4 linked regions of the Homo sapiens genome follow. The protein of the gene in region 1 purifies or fractionates together with the protein of each later gene. This does not show direct contact. Each region holds a gene or a part of one and is shown in the gene's direction. Other genes may lie near its edges. The genes, in order: OLFML2B, LONP2, CHSY1 and DNAJC3.

Region 1 (3,891 bases):
AAGGAAGCTGTGAGGGCAGCATTCATGTGGCTCTCTCACTGCCCCCTTCCACTGCCCTCTTCCCACCTCCTCCATAATCCACAAGTGTGAGGACAGGAAGAGCACATGCCCTTAGTCACGTGTGACTTCACTATCATTCAAGGCTATGCTCAATAATAATACTGCATATAAGCATTGCAGGCTCTCAACTTCATCTAGAACCCAGTATAGTTCCAGTGGCTTTTTAGGGCCTCTCCTGGGCACCGGATCCAGAGCCACTCAGAAGGACGTTGCTGAGTTCCTGTCCCATCGTGGCCGACTTGATCTCTGAAGGAGGCTTCTATACCCAGAGTCAGCTCCTTATTCAAGAACTTGGTATCTTGCCCCCCAGTTACCCAGCAGAGGGCCCTGGCATCCTGCTCCCAGTAGTGACAGGGGCTTAGGCTTGGGGACAGCTCTCTAGGACAGCAGGTGGGCCTCAGGGACATGAATAGCCATTGCTCCACTAGGGCTGGTCCCACAGCCTGGGGCAGCTCAGCAGCTGGCAGAGCCGAGTTCCTGGTTACACCCAGCAGAGGCCTCTCCTCTGGCCACACTTCTCATGCTGTGTGTTCACCCTGGGATCAGACATTTGGGTGCCTGCAGCAAGCCAGACACCGTGTTCTGAGCACTGAGAATGCAATGAGGAAAAGCCACATTCCCTCATCCCTTGGTGCTTACGCTCCGGTTGGGGGCAGGCGTGGAGGGAGGAGAGAGAAGCACAAACATTGTGGAGATGCAGGATGACATGCTCTGTAAGAGAGCAGCATTCATGGTACCCTGAGAGCTGAATGGAATAGAATAGAATAGTTCTCCAGAGGAGGGCATGATGTCATAAAAGGACTCTGGATCTTAGGTCTTTGAAGGATAGGACTGAGAAGTCAGAACAGGAGCAAAGCATAGTGGTGTGAAAGTTGCCAAAGATGGGCATGGTGGAGGCTCAAGTGTAGGGTCAAGTGTAGGGTGGATCAGGGGAGTAGCAGGAGATGGTGTGGAAAAATGTTTGGGGTCAGGTTATACAGGGCTGTTAAAGCCTGCCGAGGAGTCCAGACTCTAAATGGATGAACAGCAAAGGTTTAAGGGGTGAGGCATCACTAGATCAGCCCAAAACCTCCATCCACCTCTTCTCCACCAGGAAGGTGCAAGGACACTCTCTCCACAATCACGGGGCCGACCACCCAGAACACATATGGGCGGAATGAAGGGGCCTGGATGAAGGACCCCCTGGCCAAGGATGAGCGGATTTACGTAACCAACTATTACTACGGCAACACCCTGGTAGAGTTCCGGAACCTGGAGAACTTCAAACAAGGTACATGATAAAGATCCAACCCAGACTGCTCCTTCCCTTCCCCACGTCCTCTGTTTTTATCACAGCCAGGCCTCTTTGGGTGGTAATGACGGATAGGAAGGATGACACCTTCTTCTGATGGCTAAAGGACCTTTCCTTGGAGAGCGGTCCCCCTTCCCCACTCCCTCACATTCTCTGCCTCTCAGCTCTGCCCCTCCTCCTGAGCTCCTGGGACATGGAAAAACCTCCGAGTCCAGAAGACAGGCTCCCTTTCCCATAGCCCTTGACAATTTATGAACCACATTCATGTATATTAGCTCCCCGGATCCTTGAAACAGGCAGATGGGAATTGTCACTTCCCTATGACAGATAAGGACACTGAGGCACGGACAGGTTGAGTGATGTGCTACAGGATGCTAGAAAGTGGCAGAGCCAAGACACAAACCTGGGTTTCCAGACCCCTCGTTGATCATCACTCACTTAACCACATGGGCTGCCCACCCTCTGCCATGCCACTCTGAAGCCTCCTGTTTTCTCCCCACCTGCAGGTCGCTGGAGCAATTCCTACAAGCTCCCGTACAGCTGGATCGGCACAGGCCACGTGGTATACAATGGCGCCTTCTACTACAATCGCGCCTTCACCCGCAACATCATCAAGTACGACCTGAAGCAGCGCTACGTGGCTGCCTGGGCCATGCTGCATGACGTGGCCTACGAGGAGGCCACCCCCTGGCGATGGCAGGGCCACTCAGACGTGGACTTTGCTGTGGACGAGAATGGCCTATGGCTCATCTACCCGGCCCTGGACGATGAGGGCTTCAGCCAGGAGGTCATTGTCCTGAGCAAGCTCAATGCCGCGGACCTGAGCACACAGAAGGAGACCACATGGCGCACGGGGCTCCGGAGGAATTTCTACGGCAACTGCTTCGTCATCTGTGGGGTGCTGTATGCCGTGGATAGCTACAACCAGCGGAATGCCAACATCTCCTACGCTTTCGACACCCACACCAACACACAGATCGTCCCCAGGCTGCTGTTCGAGAATGAGTATTCCTATACGACCCAGATAGACTACAACCCCAAGGACCGCCTGCTCTATGCCTGGGACAATGGCCACCAGGTCACTTACCATGTCATCTTTGCCTACTGACACCCTTGTCCCCACAAGCAGAAGCACAGAGGGGTCACTAGCACCTTGTGTGTATGTGTGTGCGCGCACGTGTGTGTAGGTGGGTATGTGTTGTTTAAAAATATATATTATTTTGTATAATATTGCAAATGTAAAATGACAATTTGGGTCTATTTTTTTATATGGATTGTAGATCAATCCATACGTGTATGTGCTGGTCTCATCCTCCCCAGTTTATATTTTTGTGCAAATGAACTTCTCCTTTTGACCAGTAACCACCTTCCTTCAAGCCTTCAGCCCCTCCAGCTCCAAGTCTCAGATCTCGACCATTGAAAAGGTTTCTTCATCTGGGTCTTGCAGGAGGCAGGCAACACCAGGAGCAGAAATGAAAGAGGCAAGAAAGAAGTGCTATGTGGCGAGAAAAAAAGTTTTAATGTATTGGAGAAGTTTTAAAAAACCCAGAAAAACGCTTTTTTTTTTTAATAAAGAAGAAATTTAAAATCATCCCCCAGTGCACTTTTGTTCAGCACCGATATGTCTGGCCAGGTGTTGGATCCCGCTCCCGGAAGGAGACGAGGTCTGGTGTTCCTCAGAAATGTTCTCTAGCTGAAGTGGCCTGCGTCCAAGTTCAGTTCCTAGGAGCTCCTCCTCCCCTCCTGATAGGGGCTTCCTGGTGGGGGATTTGGAATGAGCGACCCCCGTGTTCTCTTTAATTTTGTGGCATTGATCTCTTCATTTTTCTGTCACACTGGCTTCCTTGCTCTGTTCTGCTACTCCTCTGATCACTTCACCCAAGGTTGGGGAACCCGTTCATTCATTAGCCCTGCTTCTCGAGGTCTGGTCTTAGGCACTGTTGAAAATACAAAACTGAGTGAGTGCGACCTTGTTCCCACACTTCCTTAAGAAGTTCTCAATCAATCCATCTCTCTCCCCTTCTCTCCTTCTGCCCATAACCCTGTCTGCCTTTTCCTGAACAAGCTCATTCGGCCAGGCTTTCCCTCCCACCTTCCCTTCCAGGAAAGGGGCCCCTTTCTGAAACAAGGTCCTTGAGGGAAGCACTTGAGGGATGGGGAAGAACTGCAGCCCCTCCCGGTGCAGGGCTGAGCCCTGTGCAGTGCCTGCTGTCCACAAGTGTGATTTTTTTCCTCCACATTACACAAAACAGGAGATAGAACATCTGAAAAAGCCTGAACAGGCATCTCCTGAGGTTATGAAGGAGGGCAGGACCCAGGGATGCCGCAGGGAGATCAGCACAGCTCTCCTGTTGCAGCTCCCCTCAGCCTCCTCCCGACCCCTCTGTAGGCGGCCTCACTTCCTGACCCCAAGTTAGAGGGTCACACCAGGGAGCACCCCCGCTGTGTAGAGAACAAGGTGGGGGGCCATGAGGAACAGCCCTCCAGGGAGGCCGGCTGCAGCTTGTCTGGGTGAATCAATTGGTTTTAGAGCCAAACTG
Region 2 (6,263 bases), on another chromosome or scaffold:
CTTAGAACTAGGCAAAGATGAAAGTATAGCCAACTATTCTTGGCTATATATATATATTCAAGTGGGCCGGGCGTGATGGCTCACACCTGTAATTCCAGCACTTTGGGAGGTCGAGGTAGGCAGATCACCGAGCCCAAGAGTTCAAGACAATCCTGGCCAACGGCGAAACTCTGTCTCTACAAAAAATATACAGGCGTGTTAGCATGTGCCTGTAATCCCAGCTTCTTGGGAAGCTGAGGCACAAGAATTGCCTGAACCCAGGAGGTGGAGGTTGCAGTGAGCTGGGATCGCGCCATTGCACTCCAGCCTGGCTGACAGAGCGAGACTGTCTCTAAAAAAAAAAGACTCAAGTGGACCCTACAATGAAGCCTACACATCCCAATAGAAGCCCCTTCTTATGCTGAGGGAAGCAGCCCTCAGAACATGATAGCTTGTATCCAGCAGAGTGGCACGTGCTGGCACACCTCACAGAAGCACCCTGGCCCTGGATGCCTGCAACCTCAGAAGAGTGCAGCTCCCAGAGGGAGGCAGCCATCCATCTGGGATGGTCCTAAGCATGGAATCCTAACTCCTGATTCCGTCTCCTATTTCTTGCTTGGCTACGCCAGTTCCCAAATCTGGTAGATGTCCATGCCCATGTGCTCCTGCTGGGACTCAATTCAGGCTATGTATGACTATGAAGTCAGGCTCATCTGCTTACTGGCTGTGTGAACTTTTTGTATCTTGGTTTTCTTCATCCATGAAATCCAAGTAATACTACCTAATTGTTACTGTGGAGATTAAGTTCAAATGCAATGTATAGTAATATTAAGCAATTTCTAGTTATTATTCTAGCCAGTAATGGACTTCAGAATCTTTTATTACACAATATAAGAATATGTATGTAAAGACATTTTGGAATTTCCTGGATGAGAAGGAAGTCTGGGCTGGGCATGGTGGCTCACGCCTGTAACCCTAGCACTTTAGGAAATCGAGGCGAGTGGATCACTTAAGCTCAGGAGTTCAAGGCCAGCCTGGGCAACATGGCAAAACCCCATTTCTACAAAAAATACAAAAATTAGCTGGGCATGGTGGCACCCGCCTGTAGTCCAGCTACTTGAGGCTGAGATGGGAGGATGAGGGAGGTCGGGGCTGCAGTGAGCCAAGATCACGCCACTGCACTCCAGCACCCTGGGCGACAGAGTGAGACCCTGTCTCAAAAAAAAAAAAAAAAAAAAAGATTGGGCCAAAATACTGTGATAAAATAGCAGGCCTGCTGATAAAAGTTTATCTGAATGCATTGAGAGGAAAAGTCCAGACCTAGGACTAGTTATGGCAGTTGGAGAGAAAGAACATCGGGATGTTTGAAAATATGCCATTGACTATCTTAACTACTGTAATTTTATCATTTCCAACGTCATCTAACTGGGGACTAGAACAAACTGTGAATTCACTTTCAGCAACCAGAGGGCGCTAATCCACACCCACATCGCTCTGCCCTGTTCCACCCAGCAGGGGCAACAAGGATATAACTTGGGGTTCTCGGTATTCTTCCTTTAGTCCTGACACAGGCAGCCTTGCACTTTGTAGCAGCAGGAGGGCACTTGCTTTAAGCATATCTTTCGAAAGGCATCCATTGAGAGAATAATGCATTCTCCCCTTGCTGTGTATGACATGGAACAGTATGACCATTGCACTAGCTTTGTTTTTGGTTTGTTTTGTTTTTTTTTTAATTCCAGGGGTGGGAGGTTGGTTGGTTGAAGTCTAAGCTCTTCCTTTTTCACCTGGGTTTTTTTTTTTTGGGGGGGGTGGGGGGTTAGGGGTGGGGCGGGTGGGGAAGAGCCAAAATTTTAACCATTTTTAAGCATATAATTTGGGGGTATCAGTTACTGGATCTAAGCATGTCCACTCTACACGCTTTTTTTTTTTTTTTTTTTTTTTTTTTTTGAGATGGAGTCTTGCTCTGTTACCCAGGCTGCACTGCAGTGGCATGATCTCGGCTCACTGCAACCTCTGCCTCCCCAGTTCAAGCAATTCTCATGCCTCAGCCTCCCAAGTAGCTGGGACCACAGGTGTGTGCCACCACGCCCAGCTAATTTTTGTATTTTTTAGTAGAGACAGGGTTTCACCATGTTGGCCAGGCTGGTCTCAAACTCCCAACCTCAAATGATCCGGCCACCTTGGCCTCCCAAAATGCTGGCATTACAGGCGTGAGCCACCACACCCGGCTTACATGCATTTTTTATCACCACAAACTGAAACTCTGTACCCACTGAAAAAGAGCTCCAAATTCCACCCTCACCCCAGACCCTGGTAACCACTATTTCACTTTCTTTCTGAATTTCCCTTCATATGAGTGGGATCAAACAAGAGTTGTCCTTTTGTGTTTAGCATTCTTACTTAGCAAGCCATCAACTGCTCGAACAGTCACTGGGGCAACTACTTTTCGCCCAGTGTCCTCCAGAAAAGAAAGATCTGGAGGGTCAGGCCACTCTTTTTCTTCAAAATAATGGGGTGCAGAAGGGTAGGGATGAACCTCTTCCTCCTTTGCCACTTTAGCTTTAGCTCAAAGGAACTCCAACTTTTTATTATTTGCAACAGTTAGCTTTCTTTGTTTCACATCTCTGCCTTGCAGAACCATGACCTATCAAGGTGTTTTGTCAAACAAAAACTAATACTTTCCCTGGGAAAAAGCCATGTGGTAGCAAGTACCAGAAATTTTTATGGCCAAATAATACACCACTATATCCATAGACCGCATTTGGTTTATCCACTCATCTGCTGATTGTTTCCCCCTCTTGGGTATTATGAGTAATGCTATGAACATGGGTGTACACATCTCTCTTGAAGTCCCTTCTTAGGTCCTTTAGGGATACATATCCAGGAGCAGAACTACTAGATCACATATGCTAAGGTCTGAATGTCCCCCCACCAAATTCGTATGTTGAAGCAACCACCAACGTGATAGGTGAGGCTTTAGGAGGTGATTATGTCATGAGAGCTCCATCCTCATTAATGGATTTAGTGCCTTTATAAAGGGGCTCAAGGGAACCAATTACCTCCTTTTTGCCCTTCGATTCCCTTCCACCATATGAGGACACAGCAACAGGCCCCGTCCTAGAAGCTGAGACTGGGCCCTCAATAGATGATACCAGTCTGCCAGCACGCTGATCGTGGGCTTCTCAGTCTTCACAACTATGAGAAATAAATTCGTACTTTTAAATTACCCAGTCTCAGGTATTCTGTTACGGTTAACACAAATGACTAAGACAACAGGATAATTCTGTTTAACTTTTTGAGAACTGCCAAACTTTTCCACCGCAGCTGCACCATTTGACATTCCTTCCAGCAATGCACAAATGTTCCAGTTTCTCCACATCCTTGCCAGCACTCATTTTCTGGGTTTTTTATAATAGCCCTCCAAATGGGTGTGACGTATTTTGATTCTATGTCCCTAATGACTAGTGATGTTGAGCATTTTCTAGCATTGATTTTTAAGATGTTACCCAAAGACCCCTTGTATCAAAATAAGCTGGATTTTTTTATTGAAAATTATTAACTCTAGAAATTTTAGTTTAAACTAGACTTAGGGATATGTGTATTTTACCGGTATTCCACGTTTTATGCATGGGTTTTTAAAACTTCTCAAGTATTAAAACTAAAAGCTTTAGGTGCTTTGCTTATCAAGAAATCCTACACTGTCCACTGGAGACATCCATGTTTTTACTTGGCTCTGCCCCTTTAGTGGTCCCTGTGAACCTTACCTCAAACCATGCATCTGGGGCAGAGATCCTTACTTGCTTGGTGGTTACAAATGCAAATACAGTGAAGAATGTCATCTTTGTGATTGTTCCTGAAATAGTTCACGAGAAATCCATGACCGTAAAGTACTGTGATAGTGATGTCTACCACTGTGAGCTTCCAGTACTAGGTGATTGGTCTGCATTCACAGTGACCAAAATCAGCTATGTGGCCAGGTAATTCACTGCTGAGGGCTTTGGATTTTCCTTTATGAACTACTGAAATGAGGTCAACTTGACTATTACTAAGGGACATTTTGCTACAAAGAATGTTAGTTTTGCCAATTCCCTTTCCAAATCTAAAATTTATTTTAACCAGGATTTTAGATGTAAACATCAAGTAGTTTTGGTTGTTTCAATGAAGTAACATGTTTAAGCTCACATTATTTGAAGTACTTCAGTTCCTATTGCCATGAAAATTGTATCCAGCAGCTAAAAAAAAAAAAAAAAAAAAAGACTACAGTTAGTCATTATCCAATTTGATGATTTATGGTCCAACACTAATGCTCATTTTTTTTGTTTGTTTTACAAACATTTGGTGGATACCACAATGAAAACTGCACTTAAAAAACAAAAATGCTGAAAGAGGAAGGAAATATCAAAAAGGTCTGAATAGACAACAGGCAAATATGGTGAGTGGTCATTGAGATGTTTTAAAAGTTACAGCAAAAGGACTTCTAAAACAATTTTAGGAAAAGCTTTGTCATGAAAATTCATTTCTTTGGAAATACTGTAGTTTGTACTTAATGACACTGTCAGCACATTTCTAGGCAATACAAACTCTTGAGGCTAAATCCTCATCCTGACATGACAGTGCAAGCCTGTCAAAATGTGACCCCAAAACCAGGTGTCCTTTTGCTCCATTATTTATATCTGTAAACCTGTTATTATTTTCAGAATTCAGAAAGGCCTAAGAAAATTACATCTATGATAATAAAGTGTATTTCTTTGTCAAGTTTCTAGAGCTATATAAGGATAGCGAAAATATTTGGTTCAGCAAGACACTGGGGTATCAAGTCAGGCATAATAAGCACTTTATAGCACATCTAGCCTTCCTCATTCCCTTACGCAGTGGACATCATACCCTTTTGTGGAGGAGGGACCAGGCAGAGAAGGTATTTAAATAAAAACTGGTAGATACAGAGTCAGAAGTCAACCCAGGCAGTTAGAATCTACAACCCACACTGTTTGCCACCAAATCTTAGTAGATGCTTGATAAGGAATTTTGTTTGGATGGTGCCATTTTTAGATAAACGTACGTTTCTTTTGGTAAATTCAGGTTAGGATCATAAGCAGTAAACTACCAAATACTCCTTTGTGCTTTGAACATGCACACTGGATGAGTGGGGAGGGGAATGACAAAGCTTCAAACTCCGGGTCTCTGTAACACTCTATCTGTACCTTTCATGTTTAACCTACACAAATACCACAGTCCTGCGTGGTAGTTCACACACACTATTCACCCTGTCGAGTTTCGACATTACTTTTATGTCCATTCTAATGCAGCAGTCACAGACTGACCCCCCAGGTATGTTGGATTTGATCCATTATTTTCTTAATTTGGATTACTTACCAATTCTTCTAATCAGGAGTGTGAATGAAATAGAATTCTACCATTAGTAGAATCACTGCAGATGTTTCTAAATATGAAGAGCTTTTGGGGGTTGGAGGCAGCACACTATTATTTTGGTGAGCTAAGCTATCTACAGCCACTTACATACGTTTGAAGTTTGCAGAAAGGTGGGTCTTAAAATCATACATATTACAATAAAAATTACTCACAAAGGAAAAACTGTTCCCCAAAAATTAACACACCAAACTGGCCCATGATTAAATAGGACAATTTCAAGTTTAAGGGTATAAAAGCAATAGAACAAAGTTAATAAGTATCTCCCATACCTACCCCATGTACAGCCTCCTGAAAGACACCAAAAATAAGAAATGGAGGAAGTCTTCGTTATAACAAGCAATTTCAGGACAAGAGTTATGCCTCATAAATCAAATGTGTAATGGACCAAGAAATATGGCTATAGATCTTACCTCTATAGGCTAAGAATATGAAGACCCAAATGCAAATAGTTAATACTAAAATGTCAAGCTTATTAACTGTTAAACACAAAATGTACTACCTTAATTTGCTTAAATTAGCAAAACATGAGGTGAAAATGAAAATGGAAAACTTCACACAGTTACTGGTGTCCTCTGGAACCTCTCCAGAAAGCAATGATGAAGTGTGTAAAAAATAATCCCAAGAATATAAACAGAAAACATACAGGTATGTTCATGGTTTACTTATATCCAGCAAGAACCTAGGTAAAATTACAGTGAATCCTCAAACTAACAAAAATTATTTTTCCAAGATTATTAAAGTGGTGAAACACTCAGATGACCATGTTGTGTGATGAAAGGCCTACAAGGTAATACATAAAAGGGCTCCCAATATCTTTGAAAATAAACATGTGGCTGGAGCCAGCTGCTCATGCC
Region 3 (7,713 bases), on another chromosome or scaffold:
TCTCATGGCTGCCTGCTGAAAAGTTTGTAGCTGAATTTGGGCCCACCACTAGCACATCCGTAGGTCACGTGATGGCAGGTAGGTCTCAGCACAAGAGCACTTTGCAGTTGAAGTGGTGGCTCCTGAGAGTGCTCTCACTGAGTCAGGGTTTGCCCTGGGCAGGGCAGCCTCCACCAGGATTTGCCTTTCGTTCCTTGCGTAAGGGTTTCCTACTCTTACTTTTCTTTGGTCTCATTTTCTTGCTGATTTTTCTCATCCTGTATGATTTTGGTTAAGTTGTCTTAAATCCCTTCTGTAACAGGGGAGAATGTAAATACAGCTGGCCCTGCTATCTGCTACATCTGTGGATTCCACCATCCATGGATTGAAAATATTTGGGGGGAAAAACAATAGAAAATAACAATAATAAAAACAATACAAGTAAATACAATATAGTATAACGACTATTTACATAGCATTTACATTGTATTAGGTATTATGAGTAATCTAGAGACTATTTAAAGTATACAGGAGGGTATGTGAAGGTTTAAGCAAATACTGCACCATTTTATATCAGGGACTAAAGCGTCTGTGGATTTTGGGGTCCTGGGATCATTCCCTCTTGGATGATAAGGAACAGCTGTATATACCCTTAATTCCTATTATCCATCAGTTCTACAGAGAGAAAAACCCATATCCTCCCTTCTTTAACTTCCAAGATGATTTTATCATGAGTCCTTTTAAACTGACTGCCGTGTAGCCATCAGACAGCACATGTAATAGTGATTTTGGGGAACTCACAGAAAATCTCCCCACCTTTTTAATGGTAACTAGTAGAATAACTATTAAAGCTTAAAAATCACAATTGAAACGACTCAATCTTACTCCATTTTTCTTTCAGTTTTTCTTGTTGGATAAAAAAATTTTATTACAAAAGTAAAAATTCTCTGTTGTTACATGTTTTGATTTCTTTGGTTGCTTGTTAGCCTCAAAGCTTTTGCCCAGTTAAAACTTTTTTTCCAGCTCTAAATATACCTGTTGCAGAAAACTTAGAAAATTTAGAAAACACAAGGAAGACTATTGGCCGGGCGCAATGGCTTCCGCCGGTAATCCCAGCCCTTTGGGAGGCCGAGGTGGGCGGATCACAAGGTCAGGAGTTCGAGACCAGCCTGACCAACATGGTGAAACCCTGTCTCAACTATAAGTACAAAAATTAGCTGGGCGTGGTGGCAGGTGCCTGTAATCCCAGCTACTCGGGAGGCTGAGGCAGGAGAATCGTTTGAACCTGGGAGACGGAGGTTGCAGTGAAATCACGCTGTTGCACTCCAGCCTGGGCGACAGGGCCAGACTCCGTCTCAGAAAACAAAAAAAAAGACTATTAAATCCTTTCTGGTTTTCCCATCCAAAAATAACCACGGTGAATACTTTGGGGGTGGAGTTGTACGTTATTTTATTTTTGTATATGTACTTTTGTTCCCTTGGTAAGCCACATCACAAGTATATACTGTTGCCTGCTTTTTAAGCTTACCCGTATATTATGAATATTTACCTAGGACAAGAGTCATGCTATAGATGCAGTTTTGTACAGAAGTGTATTTTATGTAGTTTTTCTTAAAACAACACTGAATGGAAATGGAGACTATGATATTAACCCATTTATGCCTAGAGTTCCATTATTGGAACGCTAAGCTTGTGGGAGTTATTTATATCCCGCTCAAGGTTATCACCAAAGTCTGATTTTTTTTCCACACAAAAAAATCGCAACCTCTGACATAAATGGGTTAAGTCCTAACCAGCAAAGGCATTCCTTAGCTAAGCTAATACTGGTCCAGCTGAATTACTTAACTGTGATTTGACTCAGTGTAGGAATAGCGTTTAGAAACCTAGAGTGATGGAGGATTCACTTGGCACTCTCAAGTTTCAGCTGTCTTATCTGGGCTTGAGCAAGGGTTGGACATCAGTTCATTGAAAATGAGCTTTTTCTGGCAAGGCCTCTGCAAACGTTTTGTCATTTCAATTAAGTGAGAGTTCTTTGCTCCCGGTAACAAATGTGTTGATGGCAAAGCTGACGTTTGCTTATGAAAATGAAGGAACTGGACTTGTTGATATTGCAGAAGAGGGGACAGCTTGCTTCTTTGGGAGCATTCCCTTCAATTATTTGAAATTATTAATGCATCCCCTCCTCCTCCTCAGGATGGTGGTGAATCACGATTTATGTTCCTGAACTCGTTCACTTTGTGGAGCTCTTCAAGTTAAAGGACCCTAATTGAAAAGATTATAATTTCTTAAGATTGGAGGGTTTACAAAGACTTGACATTGAGAGATTTCCCTCAAACCAACCACCAGTCATTTAGAACAGAAAAGGACAACATGAGGTTTTTCCCTGAGTTACCTAAAAAGGAACAGATAATAATTGGGTGGAGTTACCATAAAACTGTAGGGTTGAGGTTAGACTGTTTTTAAAATTAATTGGTTTCTCTTCTTGGGCAAATTACACCATTTCAGTCATAGTTGAGACATTAATTGCGTCTGTGCTGGTTGTACTGCTGGGGCCTCTTTCACTGTGTTCTTCCTGGTGGGGTACACGGGAAGCAGGGCCAAACTATAATGAAGCTTCATCCTCAGTCTAGTAGGGAAGTTTCTCGTGCTCTACCGCGAAATGCTCGTGAAATTTGCAGTTAGGCCTCTTTCCTGTAACATTGTCTGAAGTTGATAGTAAAAGAGGATTTCAGTACATAGCTTGAGGCTCAGGTTTTAAGAAGCATTTTCCACATTACCTTTGCTCCGTGTGCTCCTGAGACTGACTAGTCCACGTGGAGCCCACACTTTCCTGTTCTTTCACTACCTTATTTGATTTGCAAACTCTTGTCTTCCTTAATAATAAGTCATACTTACATAGTGCCAGGCAGGCTTCTAAGCTGTTTACAGAGAGCTCATTTAACCCTCACAACAACCCCCGTTTACAGATAAGGAAACTGAGGCACAGAGTAACTTGTCCCAAGTGGAGCTGGAGTTCTCGCCCCCATGGCCTGATTCCAGAGCCAGCTCTTGCGGTGATGCTGTAGATTCGCCTCCTTAGTTGGTTGTTCTTTGAAGGCAGGAATTGTCTCGCCCACCCCATCTCCCAAATAACATTACAGTGTTTTAGTATTTTCATGGCTTCCTAGGTTGAAAATTTCTCAAAGTACAAGATAGAAATGATTTCTGACCTTTTGCAAACACGTGTGGCACCATTAAGTTACTTATTGTACATGAGTGGGCAGTATTCAGTGCACACATTTAGTGACCTCTATTATGTGCCAAGCACTGAAATTATTTACATTTTCAAAGAATTGTTGCGACTGCCAAATGAAAAACATTTCTCTATAAAGAGAGCATTATCAGGGGCTCCTCGACTTGAATGGGGGGTCATTGCACTATAATTTTGTCCTTACTAACTTCCCAAGGCTGGAGGAGTTCTGAGAAGTTATCTCCCCTCCATATGTCACCGCATCAGAAGACTCTGTATAGCTTGTCACACATTCACACATTGTCGCATTTGCAAAAGGACTTGTCCCTTTGTAGGTGGGATTGGTTTTTCTTTAAATTAATTTCCACATCTCTACGTTTATTCTACATCCTTTTTCTTCAGGAGCATATCCTTTGTGAAAATGAAGTGCAGTACCTAGAACAGTATCTGTTAATAACCGTGGAATGAATGTCTGGGCTGAATTTGTTTTTTGTTGTTATTCTTGTTCTTTGTTAATGAGTTATTTAAGTGGCGTAAGAATACAGGTCCATTTTAAATCCATAGGCACTAAGGGAAAACATTAACAACACCATCTTATATCCATTCTGTGATTTTGACATCTCAGAAATTAGGATGCATTTTATAGTTACCGGCGTCATGGGATTATGATTGGCAGTATTTTTTAAATTTGTTGATAGATAAAACAATGGTGCATCTTCCAGTTAACATCCTAAATGTGATGAAAAAATGTATATATTTAATCCTTGCACTTTTTGAGAGGCGTGTTGGCAGAAAGTCGAATTCCATTGAATTTTGCCTCTACTTGAAAGAGATACATTCGAAGTTGTTTTGTATTCCTCATATTTGGGTTTGGAAGAGAAATAAAAGCCAGTCATTTGTTTTCCAAGTGCTTCATTGTAAGTTCTTTTTAAAATTACAAAAGTAAATATTTAGAATCTCAGTTTTGCAAGATGAAAAAAGTTCTGGAAATGGATGGTGCCGATGGTTTCACAACACTGAATGCTGCTGAACTTTACATTTAGAAATGGTTAAGATGGTAAGTTTTATGTTATGTATATTTTATCACAATTTTTTTTAAAAAAAACAATATGATACTTATGCAGTTGTCCTTCAATATAGAGATGCATAGAATAAAAAGTGAAAGTCACCTTTGTCCACACACATTCCAGCTCCTCCCAATTTTCCTCCTTGTGTACCTCTTCCGCAGAGATTTGGTGTGTATCTTTTCAGATATTTCTCTCCTAAGACTTTCCCTTAAAGATGTGTGGGGGTTTCATTGATCCTTCAAGTAATTTTTCACTATAATAAATACACTTGTAACAGGTAAAATAAAAAATATTTGAAAGAACATCATTTGATAACTGCTTTTTTTATTTTAAGATTAAATTTACTATTTTATTTATTCTCCACGATACATTTTTCTTGGAAGTAGTCTGTATGAATGAATTATTATAGCCAAACAACTTTAGATCTGAATACAGAACGTGAAGAAAGTAGGAGGGAAAGTGCGATATGATAGCCTTCAATTAGCTGCTCAGCAGAAGCAGCCTTTACGTGGTTTCCTCGCAGTTGACCACTCATCTTCCCTCTGTCGATGGGCAACCGTTGTCTCTTACACCCTTTACGTGGTTTCCTCGCAGTTGACCACTCATCTTCCCTCTGTCGACGGGCAACCGTTGTCTCTTAAACCCTTTATGTGGTTTCCTCGCAATTGACCACTCATCTTCCCTCTGTTGATGGGCAACCGTTGTCTCTTAAACCCGGGTCTGGGCTGCTGCAGTAGTTTACTCAGTGGTCTTCCTGTGTCCACTCTGGCTTCCTTCGGCCTTCTTCTCCATTCCTAGGGAGTTCAAAATGTGTGGGCCTTAATCTTGTCTTCTGCCGCATTCCCTCTAGAGGCTTCCTGTGGCTCTTGCAACATAGAGGCCTGCATCTCTAGTGTACTCTGCCAGGCCTTGCACATTTGCCTCTGTTTTTTTTTTTTTTTTTTTTTTTTTTAGATGGAGTCTTGCTCTTTTGTCCAGGCTGGAGTGCAGTGGTGCGATCTCGGCTCATTGCAACCTCTGCCTCCCGGGTTCAAGCAATTCTTCTGCCTCAGCCTCCTGAGTAGCTGGGATTACAGGCACACGCCACCATGCCTGGCTAAATTTTGTATTTTTTTTTTTAGTAGAGATGGGGTTTCACCATGTTGGCCAGGCTGGTCTTGAACTCCTGACCTTGTGATCTGCCTGCCTCGGCCTCCTAAAGTGCTGGGATTACAGGCATGAGCCACTGCCCCCGGCCACATTTGCCTCTATATTAGTCTGTTCTCACACTGCTGATAAAGACATACCAAAATAGGTAATTTATAAAGAAACAGAGGGGTTTTTAAAATTATTTTATTTATTTATTTTTTTGAGACAGAGTCTTGCTCTGTCTCCCAGGCTGGAGTGCAGTGGCACGATCTCGGCTCGCTGCAAGCTTCGCCTTCCGGGTTCATGCCATTCTCCCGCCTTAGCCTCGCTAGTAGCTGGGACTACAGGCGCCCGCCAGCACGCACGGCTAATTTTGTTTTTGTATTTTTAGTAGAGACGGGGTTTCACCGTGTTAGACAGGATGGTCTCAATCTCCTGACCTCATGATCCGCCCGCCTCGGCCTCCCAAAGTACAGGGATTACAGGCTTGAGCCACCATGCCCGGCCCAGAAACAGAGGTTTAATGGACTCACAGTTCCACATAGCTGGGGAGGCCTCACAATCATGGTGGAAAGTGAAAGGCACGTCTTACTTGGTGGCAGACAAGAGAGAATGAGAGCCAAGCAAAAAGGGAAACCCCTTGTAAAACTATGAGATCTCATGAGACTCACTCCTGACCATGAGAACAGTGTGGGGGAAGCTGCCCCCGTGATCCACTTACCTTCCCCTGGGTCCCTCCCGCAACATGTGGGAACTGTGGGAGCTATCATTCAAGATGAGATTTGGGTGGGGACACAGCCAAACCGTATCAGCCTTCTTCCTCGCCTCATGACAGCGCTCTCGTGCCCTGCATTCCTTGATGTTTACCCTGTTTCAGGGGAAGGCTCCCTGTTCTGTTGGTTCAGCTCATGTCCTGTGCTCTGCCCTTTGGGAGTACTTCTCTTAGTTCATAATAATATATACATTAGTCTCATTATTCTGGTAAGTGTCTGTCTCTCCTGATGTCCTCTCTGTGAGTTGGGGATCACGTTTTTGTTCACCACCACATCCCTTTAGCTTAGCACATACTTGGCACTTGGTTCAAAGAAAATTTTTTGAGTGAACCATTTGATTTTGTTTTTTGTTTTATAGAGTTGAGAAGTTCTTAGGTAGGGAGTTGATAGTATCACAAAATTAATCTGTATACCCAGACCTTGGTCCCCTGGCAGTTTGGTTTTCAGCCATAACTAAAACTTAGTTATCCCAGAACAGTTTTAACACTTCTTCATTTTTTGTTGGGGTTCTTTTGAAAGTTAATTTAGACTTTGCAATACGCGGTAACCTGGGCTTTCGTTAAGAGGAACCAAGCAGGCCAAGTAGCTTTTTATCATTCCATTGAACACGGCGATACAAGATGAGCAGATAACGTGAATTCCTGAAAATCAGCTTGGAATAAACTGTTCTCTAACTGATATTTATTTTAATTCCAGAACATGGTCCAAGACAATTCCTGGGAAAGTTCAGTTCTTCTCAAGTGAGGGTTCTGACACATCTGTACCAATTCCAGTAGTGCCACTACGGGGTGTGGACGACTCCTACCCGCCCCAGAAGAAGTCCTTCATGATGCTCAAGTACATGCACGACCACTACTTGGACAAGTATGAATGGTTTATGAGAGCAGATGATGACGTGTACATCAAAGGAGACCGTCTGGAGAACTTCCTGAGGAGTTTGAACAGCAGCGAGCCCCTCTTTCTTGGGCAGACAGGCCTGGGCACCACGGAAGAAATGGGAAAACTGGCCCTGGAGCCTGGTGAGAACTTCTGCATGGGGGGGCCTGGCGTGATCATGAGCCGGGAGGTGCTTCGGAGAATGGTGCCGCACATTGGCAAGTGTCTCCGGGAGATGTACACCACCCATGAGGACGTGGAGGTGGGAAGGTGTGTCCGGAGGTTTGCAGGGGTGCAGTGTGTCTGGTCTTATGAGGTAAGAACAGAATTCTTTACCATGGGAAAAACTTAATTTTGTCAATTTTGTCATTAGTTCTGAGCGTATCATAGGAAACTAGAGATGATATCCTCTTTGAGGGTTGAAGTTGGTATTATTCTACATTTTTAGCCTTAGATTAAAAAAAAAATTCAGTTCCCCTTTATTACCTTTTCTTGGCTTTGAGCGCATATCTTCTGTACTTTTTCTCCCCCCAGAGAGAGTCTTGCTCTGTCTCCCAGGCTGGAGTGCAGTGGCGCCATCTCGGCTCACTTTAACCTCCGCCTCCTGGGTTCAAGCAATTCTCCTGCCTCAGCCTCCCGAGTAGCTAGGATTATAGGCAGG
Region 4 (4,063 bases), on another chromosome or scaffold:
GGTAAAATAAGTTCAGATAAAATAGTGGTGGTATTTAAAATAATATTGCTGAAGTGCAGATTGAAATACTTTTTAAACAACTGAAGTTCTGAGTTTTTATAGGGAATTTCATGTAACAAGACTGGTTTAGAAACGTAAAGTTGCGCAGTCAACATAAATAAATACAGAATGCCATGTTCTCCACTTCTAAGTAAAGACAGTGGGCAGCTTCTGTTTCTCCTTCTATCAAGGCTTCACCCTATCTTAAAGGTCTGTGGTGCCTCCCACGTGGGACCTGTCTGCTGGTATGTGTTAAACAGCAGACCGGCCCTTCTACCAGATCTTGATGCCTCTGATTTTCTCCTGCCTACAAGAAAATACAGGCAAGGTTAGTCAGGTCTGGCTATATTTCCACTGTTGTTTCATTTAATAAGATGGCATCTCCTCTTGAGATATGTTCTTCTTACCTTTTAAGAAGATACTATTTAAGAAGTGAACTATTCAGTCTTTGTATACTGAATGCTTTTTCCCTAAAAAATGTTAATCAAGAATATTGAATATTTATGGCACTCTTGATGCTGCATTTGAAAGCTGAAGGAATTACTTTAGATAGATAGGAATTGCTACCTTTATTCTGGAAAGGTTTTGTTTCTGCCTCAAAGCATTTTGAAGTGTTTTAACCATTAAAGGGTCTAATTTTTTTTTCTTAATGAAATCAAGCATTTTAATTCACTGTGGGAGGCATCCTGACCACGGACATCCATAACAGCAAAGCACAAATCGTTTTCGTCTGTAGTCATATCCTGAAACATAGGTGGACAAATTTTTAACTGAGAGACAAAAATCACATAGTTGAATTGAGCAGAACACTTAAGTGCTTTCTGCATCTATTTAGGAGTCTATTTCTTACCAATAAACTTGACAACGCATTTGGAAAACTAGTGAACACCTTACAGCTTTCATTTTGCTTTAATGTTTCAATTCAAGCCGGTGTAAAAATAATTTCCAAGGCATTTCTGTTTATTCTTTAGTAATCTCACTACTGGCTATGTCAGCAATATCTTTTTCAATCTGGTTCCTTTTGTATATGATGTCACTGTGACCTCTTTGAAATATAGTGATGGCTTTTACCTACTTTGAAAAGAATTTTCACATAGAGTCAGAAAAAAAAGGAAATATCAAATCACTTGCCTTTCCACTTGGAGAGCACGACAGTTGCCAACAACAAGGGGTCAAGGGCCGCACAGGAGATGTGTGGGGGCCTGGCCACCTCCCACCTGCTGCCCAGAGGCTTGTTTGCATTTTCATTTTTTCTCCACTTGTAACAACCATAGTTTCAGCTCCTAAATTCTTATCATGGATTTACTTAGTCATCTTAACTGACCTGCAGTTACTTGCCTGTTTTCAGTGAAGAGAGAGAAGCAGCTCTGGTGCCACATGCCAGTGCCATGGAGGGAAATGAATTCTCTGCAATCTGTTGTTTCGCTGATTCATGAAGAAAGTAACAACTGTTGAGTTTCAGCCTTGATGGCTGTCGGCAGTTTTCTGGTGTCCACCCAAACGGAGAGACAGTCACTCCTGCTTACCCTAATGTGTGACTGAGAAGCAGCCTGGGTGTGTAAAGAGATAGTCATTCCCCCTGCCTGTCTCACTGTAGGGTAGCATTATCCACTGTAAAACCATACTACTTTCATTTTCCCTTGGGGACTACAGGTGCCAGGTAACCTTTTTTTTTTTTTTTTTTTTTTTTTGAGACAGAATCTTGCTCTGTTGCCCAGGCTGGAGTGCAGGGACACCTCCCGGGTTCAAGCAGTTCTCCTGCCTCAGCCTCCAAGTAGCTGGGACTATAGGCACGCACCACCATGCCTGGCTAATTTTTGTATTTTTAGTAGAAATGGGGTTTCACTGTGTTAGCCAGGATGGTCTTGATCTCCTGACCTTGTGATCTGCCCGCCTTGGCCTTCCAAAGTGTTGGGATTACAGGCGTGAGCCACTGCGCCTGGCCATCAGGTAACCTTTATGGCTCTTTCAGGAAAAGTGAAATCAGAGAGGCGTACCCTAGCCACAGCTGTTGTATTCTGCTCTTCTTTCCTTTTTGGTGAGCTTCATGGGTGGAGTTATCAGTGGTCTGTACTTTGTGGATATTTTGCCCAGCAGGAAGTATTAGACACATCAGTCTAGAAGCATTGTGAAAAGGTTCCAAAACGGGAGACAAAATTTAATTCATTCCTCAGTTCTGAAAGTTTGTGCTTTCTTACCATGAATAGATGAAAACTTGAAAAAAATCTTGACAGTTTACTAATGTGAATCAGATGTAACGTACTACTAATTCTACAATGCCTTTCTCTTTAGTCAGTATTAAAAATCTTTTTTAAAGTATTGGTATGAAAACAAATTTTTGTTGCCCTGATAATGGAATTTTAAAACTACCCACAGTTTAAGAGAAAACATAACTTGGTAAAAAAGGTAGCCAATAAAACCACAATTTGAAATTGATACCATTTTCTACTCACAATGGATGATGAAAAATTTCACCTTTAAATGGGTCAGAAGTTGTCTTTGACATTTACCATGAAAAAACTACATAAAATGGCTCCCTGGTGAGGTTACAGACACGGCCCTGGTGATGGGCGTTGCAAAGTTTTCACTGAGCACACAGCAATGGTATCACCTAGAGAAGTTCACGCAACTTTGTTGAATGTAGTTGACTTTTCCAAATTTATAAAGGAAGGAAGAAGGCAAATGTTAATTTGCCAACAACGAATATCCTTTTTCTAAATCAGATCATTCCTTTTTTGTTAGTGGCAGTTTATCCTGTAATTTCAAATGACGTTAAGAGGTGGGATTATTTGGGGGTTTTTTTTGTTTGTTTACAGATGATCTCATTTGCTGAATGATTGATTTAAGAGTAAAATTAGCCACTGCGTGGCTTTGTGTATAGTAACCGGTTTTGTTGCACTTGTCTGTGGCTGAAACACTTACCTGCAGTGGAAAGCCGAGCAAGGAGGAGGTAAACATTGGAGATGTTTGTGAAAATATTACTCTTGCTGTGAGGTTTTAGTTTGTTTTGAATGAGAAAAGACTAAGTAACTTAATCCATCTCAATGTAGTGTTTTAATAAAAAAGGAACCTAATATTTGAAATGGGTCTCAGACATGTCTACAAATATGGGTACTATTTTTATGCCCGTGTATTTTCACATTTAATAAAAATATTTATGGTCATATCAGTATTTCCTTGCTTTTGATTCATTTTTGTCCTTGAGTATAAAATTCTAAGAAAGTCCGTCTTAGGAAAAGTCTATTATTTCCAGCTTTGCTTCACGCAAAACCAGTGACTGAGGTGACAAAAGGGCTCTTCCTTTACACAAGTTGACAGGGAAGGTCAGAACACACAAAGCAGAAAGGGCTAAAATAAAATCTCTTAACCCTCAAAAGTCCTAGGACAACTAAGGACTTAAAAAGTGGACAAGTCTTCCATTTCAGTGCTATTAAAATGTAACACTTAAATTGGCTTTGTCTGAAGATTTTCTCTTCTCTTTTATACCCCATTTGTACATTTCTGTTAAGGTCCTAAGTTGGGAGGAAGGAAGGACACTATAGCCTATCTATCTCAAATTTCCAGCTACAAACAGAAGGAACTGCCTTCTCAGTTAATGTATTCTGCATATCTTAAGAAAGATCCAAGGAGAGCTACGATATGTAAATGTATACAGAACTTTTCCAGAAAGCTCAAACCTTCCTTTTTTTTTTTTTTTTTTTGAGACGGAGTCTTGCTCTGTTGCCCAGGCTGGAGTGCAGTGGCATGATCTCGGCTCACTGCAACCTCTGCCTCCCTGGTTCAAACAATTAACTGCCACAGCCTCCCGAGTAGCTGGGATTATAGGTGCCCACCACCACACCTGGCTAATTTTTTTGTATTTTTAGTAGAGATGGGGTTTCACCATCTTGGCCAGGCTGGTCTTGAATTCCTGACCTCGTGATCCACCTGCCTTGACCTCCCAAAGTGCTGGGATTACAGGCGTGAGCCACTGCACCCGGCCAAAGCTTCCAAATTCTTAATCGTCATGATATTGTAGCAATAT

What was found.
Region 2: the proteins of OLFML2B (region 1) and LONP2 purify together in Homo sapiens (co-immunoprecipitation; 2 studies listed by BioGRID and IntAct, with this or other methods). This does not show direct contact.
Region 3: the proteins of OLFML2B (region 1) and CHSY1 purify together in Homo sapiens (co-immunoprecipitation; 2 studies listed by BioGRID and IntAct, with this or other methods). This does not show direct contact.
Region 4: the proteins of OLFML2B (region 1) and DNAJC3 purify together in Homo sapiens (co-immunoprecipitation; 2 studies listed by BioGRID and IntAct, with this or other methods). This does not show direct contact.

Annotation. Positions count from the first base shown.
Region 1 is NC_000001.11:161,982,243-161,986,133, reverse strand, and holds the end of OLFML2B (olfactomedin-like protein 2B isoform 2 precursor), read left to right. Parts: intron 1-1,153; coding exon 1,154-1,330; intron 1,331-1,857; coding exon 1,858-2,459; 3' UTR 2,460-2,942; downstream 2,943-3,891.
Region 2 is NC_000016.10:48,352,300-48,358,562, forward strand, and holds the end of LONP2 (lon protease homolog 2, peroxisomal), read left to right. Parts: 3' UTR 1-4,365; coding exon of another isoform or gene 4,366-4,411; 3' UTR 4,412-5,050; downstream 5,051-6,263. UniProt on the Homo sapiens protein: ATP-dependent serine protease that mediates the selective degradation of misfolded and unassembled polypeptides in the peroxisomal matrix.
Region 3 is NC_000015.10:101,234,737-101,242,449, reverse strand, and holds part of CHSY1 (chondroitin sulfate synthase 1), read left to right. Parts: intron 1-6,872; coding exon 6,873-7,368; intron 7,369-7,713. UniProt on the Homo sapiens protein: Has both beta-1,3-glucuronic acid and beta-1,4-N-acetylgalactosamine transferase activity. Transfers glucuronic acid (GlcUA) from UDP-GlcUA and N-acetylgalactosamine (GalNAc) from UDP-GalNAc to the non-reducing end of the elongating chondroitin polymer.
Region 4 is NC_000013.11:95,791,778-95,795,840, forward strand, and holds the end of DNAJC3 (dnaJ homolog subfamily C member 3 precursor), read left to right. Parts: 3' UTR 1-3,211; downstream 3,212-4,063. UniProt on the Homo sapiens protein: Involved in the unfolded protein response (UPR) during endoplasmic reticulum (ER) stress.